2 separate regions of the Homo sapiens genome follow, and region 1 is linked to region 2. Evidence: fine-mapped expression QTL. A gene starts in region 2. The other region holds a variant in brackets. All regions are shown on one strand. Distances are from middle to middle.

Region 1 (4,390 bases), 22 kb after region 2:
TGCCTGCATTCTAATCTAGCCAGCAGGATTGAAGCAATAAAGAAGAGTAGAAAGAAAGGGTTGAAGCCAGGTGCAGTGGCTCGCTCCTATGGTCCCAGCCACTGTGTGGTGGGGAGGAACTGAGGTAGGAGGATCCCTTGAACGTAGGAGTTCATGTCCAGCCTGGGCAATGTAGCGAGATCCAGTCTCTTAAAAAAAAATAAGGAAGAAACAAAAAGAGTTGACAAGAAAGGCTCTAGTAGCCACCACATTCCATTTTGGTTTCATCTTACTAGAATTTAGTCACGTGACCACAACTAACTGCCAAGAAGGCTAGGAAAGTGGCATGTATTATGGGCATTGGATACCAGCTAAACTGTGTAGAGAGTATGGATGGGCCTGGGCACAATGGCTCATTCCTATAATCCCAGCACTTTGGGAAGCCAAAGGCGGGATGATCGCTTGAGCCCAGGAGGTCGAGGCTGCAGTGAGCAATGATCACCACTGCACTTCAACCTGGGCAACAGAGTGAGACCCAGTCTCGAGAAAAAAAAAAAGTATGGGTGGATACTGGGAAACAGCAAGAAGTTTTTGCCACCCATTAAGTGGATTTTATAGTTTTCTTACCTGATACAGACTAAGAGCATTAAAATAACATTTTGCCTAATGGCTTTAACAGCCATGGATGATTATTTTTCAGATCTATTATTTCATTAGGGATTGCAAAATGGTAGTGTTCTAGTTCTAACATTTTTGGTTTTTGGGGATTTGTGTGGAGATAACATCCCTCTTGGATTTCAGGGTAGTCTGGGGGAACATAATTAACATGGGGCTAGCTCCTGACGTTCCAGAAGAGAATGGAATGTAGAATTAAGTTCTGAAAGTGTTTTCAGTTGTGTTGATTCATTCTGCACACCCTTTTAAAGGTAATGAAAATGTGCACAGCCTCCTGAAACTCCCTGGCACAGTCCTCCATTCAGAGAAGTCTTTTCTAATTCTTTGGTGACTCAGTTTCCTTTAGTAGCCTTTGATTTGCCATCAGTTATAAAATATTTTGTTTTGTAAACAAATTTCAATTATTTTTCTTCAGAGGCCTCCTAATGATTTGCCTCACTCTATGAACTCAAGTTGTTTAGCCAAGGCACCTTGTCAATGCTTTCCAACCAAAGTAAACAGGTTAGATTTATTACTTGTAGCATGGGGTGACTCAGTAGGAGGATTATTTGGGGCAGGGTCTAAGGAAACTGTTCTGTTGAGATTGGATACTCTCAGAAAGCAGGATCAGTTATACTATTGGCTGCTCTACCATTGACTGCCTCAAATTTTTTCTATAGGGAGGGCAGACAAGAGTAAGGATAAAGCTGTCATTGGTAAAGAAGTCAGCAGTCACTCATTTTAGTGGAGATAGGATGTTTGGGTACTTTGTACGGCACGATGCCCTTGTATTTTTCTGTGGTTAGGCAAAATTCTGAAGTGGCCTTATTTAGTCTTACTTTATCATGGTCTCTGAGTAACCTTTCTGATCCAGTCTCTAAAAAAAAAAAAAAAGAAAGAAAGAAAGAAAAAAACAAAGGGTTGACAAGAAAGGCTTTGGTAGCCACCACATTCCACTTTGGTTTCATCTTACTAGGATTTAGTCACGTGACCACAACTAACTGCCAAGAAGGCTAGGAAAGTGATTATGTCCAACAGAAGACTAACTGGTATAGCTGTGGGTGCCAGGCCAGCTTTTTATCAGGGGCTGCTTTTTTTCCTTTATCAACCTTAAACTTCTCCCTAATTAGCACCAAGGCAAATTAATAGATTTTGTTTCATTCAATTCAGAAATCATGTATTGAGCTTCCTCACAGTGTCCCCTCCCCTGAAGCTGAATGGATAATGGCTTAGTCAGGCTGGCACCCCAGTCTGCCCCAGATGCGGATTTAATGACTGTATATGACCTAGGGGATCAGCTTTGAGGCAACTAGACCTTCCTTTTCCTTGCAACTCTGTGACCCGTCTTTCTCGAGGTGTGCT[G/T]TTTTTTGCTTTAGTTTAAAATTTCCAGCTTTTTGGTGGGTGCTATAGTCAAATACAAAACCTAAACAAGTAAGGGAATTGATCTATTCAGGCTATTACAATAGGAAAAGCACTCCAAATCCAAAGATCAGAGTCTCTTGGCAGGGTGGTTTTGCCTTAGACTTTTATAGAGAGGAGTATACAAGTTACAGGTGGAGGACTTACATGTGGGATTGTTTTGCAATCAGAAGTCTCAGTCAGTTGCCAAACAGGAAATATTTATCTCTGTGTCATGCTGGTTTTAGGTGGACAAAGAGTTCTAATAGAGAGACAAAGAATGAGGAATTGGGCTGAGCATGGTGATGCACATCTGTAATCCCACCACTTTGAGAGGCCCACACAGGAGGATTACTTGAGCCCAGGTGTTCAAGACCAGCCTAGGCAACATAGCAAGACCCCGTCTCTACGGAAAAAAAAAAAAAAATTGTAAAAAAGAATGAGGAATTGAAGGGTCTGTGTCTGGTCTTGTCCCACTGGGATGGGATAATCTCATGGGATACCATATACTATGGTGTATGCAGTTCATGGGTGACCAAATCATTGTTATGTGATGCATGCCTGTAATTTGTAAAATTCCTTGCAGGTATACAATTTATTGATTAAACAATTGGAAGTTTGGAGAAATATATTATTGTGCCATTCATCTAAATTTCTCTTTTTTCCATACACTGTGTATCTTTTCCTTTCTTTTATCCCTTTGGGTTAAGGATGTTTTAGTTTTAAATGAAATAAATCAAACTAAAACTAGCATAGTGAAAAAGCAATTGTAGTGATCAACAAAATAAGCCCAGGGATAGAGCTGGCTTTAGCCATGATCATGTAACTAGTTACAGTCTAGGGATTAAAATGCACAAAGACCATACCTCATATTTCTTTTCTTTTCTTTCTTTTTTTTTTGAGATGGAATGTCACTCTTGTTGCCCAAGCTGGAGTGCAATGGTACGATCTTGGCTGAGATCAGGAGAATCACTTGAACCTGGGAGACAGAGGTTGCAGCAAGCTGAGATTGCATCATTGCACTCCAGCACTCCAGCCTGCGCAATAGAGCCAGACTATGTCTCAAAAGAAAAAAAAAAAAGGAAAAGGAAAAGAAAGCACTAATCCAACTTCCTGTCTGGAGACAGGACAAACCTAGGAATTCTCTCCCTTTCTTCGCCATTCCCATTTTGCCACTCTCAAGATAGACTAAGAGTCAGTTGATATAGAATACTAACCTGTATTTGGTTGCAGGAGTAGAATGCAATTATTAAGGCTCAACAGCTTTGTTCCTTTTTTAAAAAAACATAAACATGTTGCTTTGGCCGGGCGTGGTGGCTCACGCCTGTAATCCCAGCACTTTGGGAGGCCGAGGCAGGAGGATCACAAGGTCAGGAGATCAAGACCATCCTGGCTAACACGGTGAAACCTGTCTCTACTAAAAATACAAAAAATTAGCTGGGCGTGGTGGCGGGCACCTGTAGTCCCAGCTACTTGTGAGGTTGAGGCAGGAGAATGGCGTGAACCTGGGAGGCAGAGCTTGCAGTGAGCCGAGATTGCGCCACTGCACTCCAGACTGGGTGACAAAGCGAGACTCCATCTCAAAAAAAAAAAAAGTGTTGCTTTGTTTTTTAGAGGCAGCGTCTCACTCTGTCACCTAAGCTGGAGTGCAGTGGTTTGATCACTGCTCACTGCAGCCTCAACCTCCTGGGCTCAAGCAATTCCCCCACCTCAATCTCCCAAGTAGCTGGGATTACAGGCGTGCACCACCATGCCTGGCTAATTTTTATTTTTTGTAGAGATAGAGTCTCACTAGGTTGCCCAGGCTGGTCTCGAACTCCTGACCTCAAGTAATCCTCCTGCCTCAGCCTCCCAAAGCATGAGCCATTGTGCCCAGCCAAGGCTCAATAACTTTGACGAAGCCTGAGTCAAAGTGAGAAGAAACAAATAGGTCACAATGGTATTTAGAGAGAAGCCTAGAAATACTTTGAGAACCAAAAATAGTATTTTGAAAGCAAGTAAAAAAATATAAAAAAAACTATGAGTTCATAGTTACCCTCCTTCTACCACACACGTGCTCCAAAAAAAGAAACCGTATTGTTTGATTTTGAAGGTTGGTAGGGACCAATTTGTAATTCTGAAAATTGGTAAATAAAAAGGAAAAAAGCATTTATTCTGTTATTCCTGTACTAACTGCATTTCAGGATAATCTGATAGAGGAAAAGCTCTTCTTTATAGAACAATACCAGCTAATAAATGCAAAAAGGAATATTAGAACATTACCATTGTGCAATCCCTAACGAAATAATAGATATGGGAAATGATCCTCAATGGCTTCTAGGTAAAATGTTAATGAGGAACTTTTTTTTTTTTTTTTTTT
Region 2 (4,390 bases):
TTGACTTTTTTCTATCAATAAACCTCAGTGAGAGAAAAGGGTCTAAGTTATTTACCCTTCTGGATTATTTTGCAGATTGCTAGATTTCCTTGCTAAATCAATTTGTCTCCCAAGACTTAGGTGCTGTGGTAGAAAGGAAAAATCCCAAGCCAACAGACTTACATTTCCTTAACAACTGTATTAATGTACTAGTGACTTTTTCTGGAAAACGTATCATAGTGGAGTCCTTAAAGTTCCTTTTTCTTACCAAAATGAAGAAACTGGAGTGATGAAGATCTGCTTTTCTAGGGTAACAGCTGTCAAATTTAAAAGCTCCATTTGGGGCCAGGTGTGGTGGCTCATGCCTGTAATCCCAGCATTTTGGGAGGCCAAGACAGGCGGATCACCTGAGGTCAGGAGTTCGAGATCAGCCTGGCCAACATGGTGAAAACCTGTCCCTACTAAAAATACAAAACTTAGCCGGGCGTGGTGGCGGGCACCTATAATCCCAGCTACTCGGGAGGCTAAGCCAGGAGAATTGCTTGAACCCAGGAGGCGGAGGTTGCAGTGAGCCGAGACTGTGCCACTGCATTCCAGCCTGGATGACAGAGTGAGACTCCGTCTCAAAAAAAAAGCTCCATTTGGGAGGCCGAGGAGGGTGGATTACCTGAGGTCAGGAGTTTGAGACCAGCCTGGCCCACATAGGGAAACCCCATCTCTACTAAAAATACAAAAATTAGTCAGGTGTGGTGGCTGACACCTATAATCCCAGCTACTTGGGAAGCTGAGGCAGGGAGAATCACTTGAACCGGGGAGGTGGAGGTTGCAGTGAGCTGAGATCATGCCACTGCACTCCAGCCTGGGCGACAGGGTGAGATTCTGTCTCAAACAAACAAATTTAAAAGCTCCGAATCCTCCAAAAATACCAAGATTTTCCTGTCGGTAACTAGAGATGGGTACTGATGATTATTTTTAATAGGTGATTTTCAAAGATGTGAACGTTATCCATGGAGATTTAAGTCTCCAAAAGGAAAAAAAATGCATACCTTTATACTAAAACTTCATCACCAGTCAAATTTGGATCATCACTAAATTGGCTTCTACACCTCTCTCCTAATATAAGGTACTTGTGTAAGTTTGCAGTTGTGAGACACTTATTTCCTCATTTTTAATGTCTTCTCAGTAGGGCCACTGATATAGTCACTATTTGACTGACCAGAATGGTTGGCACTGGTGATTGGCTCATAAAGTGCCCTCGATTTAGGGGGCTCAATTATCAAAGGTTTAAATCCTAGCCCAAACCATTGCTGTGATGGGGGTTAATCAATGAACCACTCAGCTTCACTTGCAAAAGCGGGATCACAATAGCCGCTTTCGTCATGACCCAGCCTAGGTGAGATTTAGTACTTAAGTACACTGCCAGGCACACAAGGTTAATTTAACAATTTAACACATTTGTTTCCTCATCCATTTCTCCAAACCTTCCAACTAATCCTAACGTTCGTTCGGCCAAATGGGCCAGGAATTCACTTAAACAAAAACAAAAAACAAAACAAACAAAAAAACACTCCCTGGGGCTTGGGGAAGGAGGCACCGCCGCCCATGTCGCAGTCTGGGGGTGGCTCAGTCCTCAGCACCCAGATCTACGGCCATAATGCTCTTCGAGGCCAAGGAGCCCGGATGCGGGGCGTTGCCGAAGGCGTCTTGCTCAGGCTGCGGGAAAGGAGAGGGGTGGGAGCGGGGTGGGGGCATCGCGACCCAGGGCAAGGCGGCGAGTCGCCGTCTTCGAGTCCCACCTGTCCGAAGCGGGGTGAGAAAAGGCAAAACATGGCAAAGCCATGCACCTCCCAGGGTGGGCAACTCACGGCCGGTGAACGCCGGACCCTTAGCAGTTTCCAGACCTTTGGAACCGGAAGCGGAGCCTGAGAGCGCGCCCGAGAGGGCGTGAACGGGACCGCTTTCCCGGAAGTGCTTGCGGCCTCTGCCCAGCGAGCTGCCCCGGGGTCTCTCTGGTTTCCTAATCAGGGCAACGCCGCGGGAGAGAACCTTTACCTTGGCTGCACTAAGTTCTCGGTGCCACTCCCTGGCAGGGCGGGACCTTGTTTAGGCCCTGTGATCGCGCGGTTCGTAGTAGCGCAAGGCGCAGAGTGGACCTTGACCCGCCTAGGGCGGGAAGAGTTTGGCCCGCCGGGTCCCAAAGGGCAGAATGGACGGGCTCCTAAATCCCAGGGAATCCTCTAAATTCATTGCAGAAAACAGTCGGGATGTGTTTATTGACAGCGGAGGCGTACGGAGGGTGGCAGAGCTGCTGCTGGCCAAGGCGGCGGGGCCAGAGCTGCGCGTGGAGGGGTGGAAAGCCCTTCATGAGCTGAACCCCAGGGCGGCCGACGAGGCCGCGGTCAACTGGGTGTTCGTGACAGACACGCTCAACTTCTCCTTTTGGTCGGAGCAGGACGAGCACAAGTGTGTGGTGAGGTACAGAGGGAAAACATACAGTGGGTACTGGTCCCTGTGCGCCGCCGTCAACAGAGCCCTCGACGAAGGTTGGTGCCATACTTGCCATCGGACCTAACGGCCTTTGAGGTTTCCATTTACTTGGGGTGTGTGTAGGGGAGTTCCAAGGAGCGGGTTGGGAGATGGAATAATGGAAAGCGAACCTGAAGTTCGTTGCAAGTCCTTATGCTTAAAATAGAAGTATGAAAAGGGGCATATTTTAGTGGAAAATGATGTTAATATTTATCATTGCAGCATAAAAGTTACAGTAGCATAAAAGTCAGTTTTATAAAGAATGCCATTTGAATGACACCTGAAGAACAAAAGGACCGATGTTATAAAGCAATTTACTCAGAATACATCTGATGTAATATTGCAATAGTTAGAAATGGGTGAATAAGTACAGATGAACAAGTAGAAAATGAGTTTTGCTTTAGATTTTTTATTCTTCCACTTTTGGTGCATTCCTATACCACTCATTTGGTTTCATATTAATTCCATGTTGTAAAAGCAAGGGTTTAATGCATATGGAAGTATGACATTGGTCCTCTGAATTTTATTTTTTCACTAAAGGGATACCAATAACTAGTGCCTCGTACTACGCGACAGTGACCCTGGATCAGGTTCGGAATATACTTCGTTCTGACACAGACGTTTCCATGCCTTTAGTAGAAGAGAGGCATCGGATTCTCAATGAAACCGGGAAAATTCTGCTGGAGAAGTTTGGAGGCTCTTTTCTCAACTGCGTCCGAGAAAGTGAGAATAGTGCGCAGAAGTTAATGCACCTGGTGGTTGAAAGTTTTCCTTCTTACAGAGATGTGACTCTGTTTGAGGTGAGTTGCTTCTGTTGGGGATTTTAGAAGTCTTAATCATCTCAGAGTTAACTCTTTTACTTCCAGAACTCATTTTAAGAATAAAAACTTAAATTTTTAAATGTATTCCTTGTGGAAGAAACTAACAAAATCAAGTAGTGTTTCAAAGTCATTTCTTATGTTTTCTTTTGTTTGTTTGTTTGAGACAGAGTTTTGCTCTTGTTGCGCAGGCTGGAGTGCAGTGGCGTGATCTTGGCTCACCGCAACCTCTGCCTCCCGGGTTCAAGCGATTCTCCTGCCTCAGCCTCCCGAGTAGCTTGGATTACAGGGATGCGCCACCAAGCCCGGCTAATTTTATGTATTTTTAGTAGAGACGGGGTTTCACTATGTTGGCCAGGCTGGTCTCAAACTCCCGACCTCAGGTAATCTGGTCGCCTCAGCCTCCCAAAGTGTTGTGATTACAGGCGTGAACCACCACGCTGGCGTCATTTCTTTCCTTTTTTTTTTTTTTTTTTTTTTTTTGAGATGGACTCTTACTCTGTCACCCAGGCTAGAGTGCAGTGGCGCGATCTTGGCTCACTGCAAACTCCGCCTCCCGGGTTCAGGTGATTCACCTGCCTCAGTCTCCCGACTAGCTGGGATTACAGGTGCCCGCCACTGCGCTAGGCTAATTTTTGTATTTTTAGTAGAGACGGGGTTTCACCATGTTGGCCAGGCTGGTCTTGAATTCCTGACCTCGTGATCCACCCACCTCGGTCTCCCAAAGTGCTGGGATTACAGGCGTGAGCCACTGTGCCGGGCCTTTTTTTTTTCTTTCCCTGAGATGGAGTCTTGCTCTGACTCCCAGGCTGGAGTGCAGTGGCACTATCTCAGCTCACTGCAACCTCCGCCTCCCGGGTTCAAGCGATTCTCCTGCCTTTGCCTCCTGAGTAGCTGGGACTACAGGCGCATGCCACCACACCTGGCTAAGTTTTTTTGTATTTTTAGTAGAGATGGAGTTTCATCTCATTTCTTATGTTTTCTAATCAATATTTCATTCTTTACTTCCTTTTTTTTCCTTTTAAAATGTTTCAAACCTAAAAAACATGGAACCCTCCATGTAATGT

What was found. PIP is the estimated chance that this variant, and not a neighbour inherited with it, causes the effect. A credible set is the group of variants that fine-mapping cannot tell apart.
Region 1: its variant is the best candidate, but not a certain one, in a credible set for the expression of QNG1 in blood mononuclear cells (TOPMed, PIP 0.65).

The regions. Positions count from the first base shown.
Region 1 is chr9:83,932,630-83,937,019 of GRCh38, reverse strand. No RefSeq gene overlaps it. Among named protein-coding and RNA genes, the nearest start is that of KIF27, 13 kb to the right of the region's middle. The variant G/T (reference allele first, on the strand shown) is at 1,996.
Region 2 is chr9:83,954,296-83,958,685 of GRCh38, reverse strand. QNG1 (Q-nucleotide N-glycosylase 1) reads left to right here and starts at 1,944. Exons shown (of 4, transcript NM_032307.5): 1 at 1,944-2,522; 2 at 3,046-3,305. The coding sequence starts at 2,186.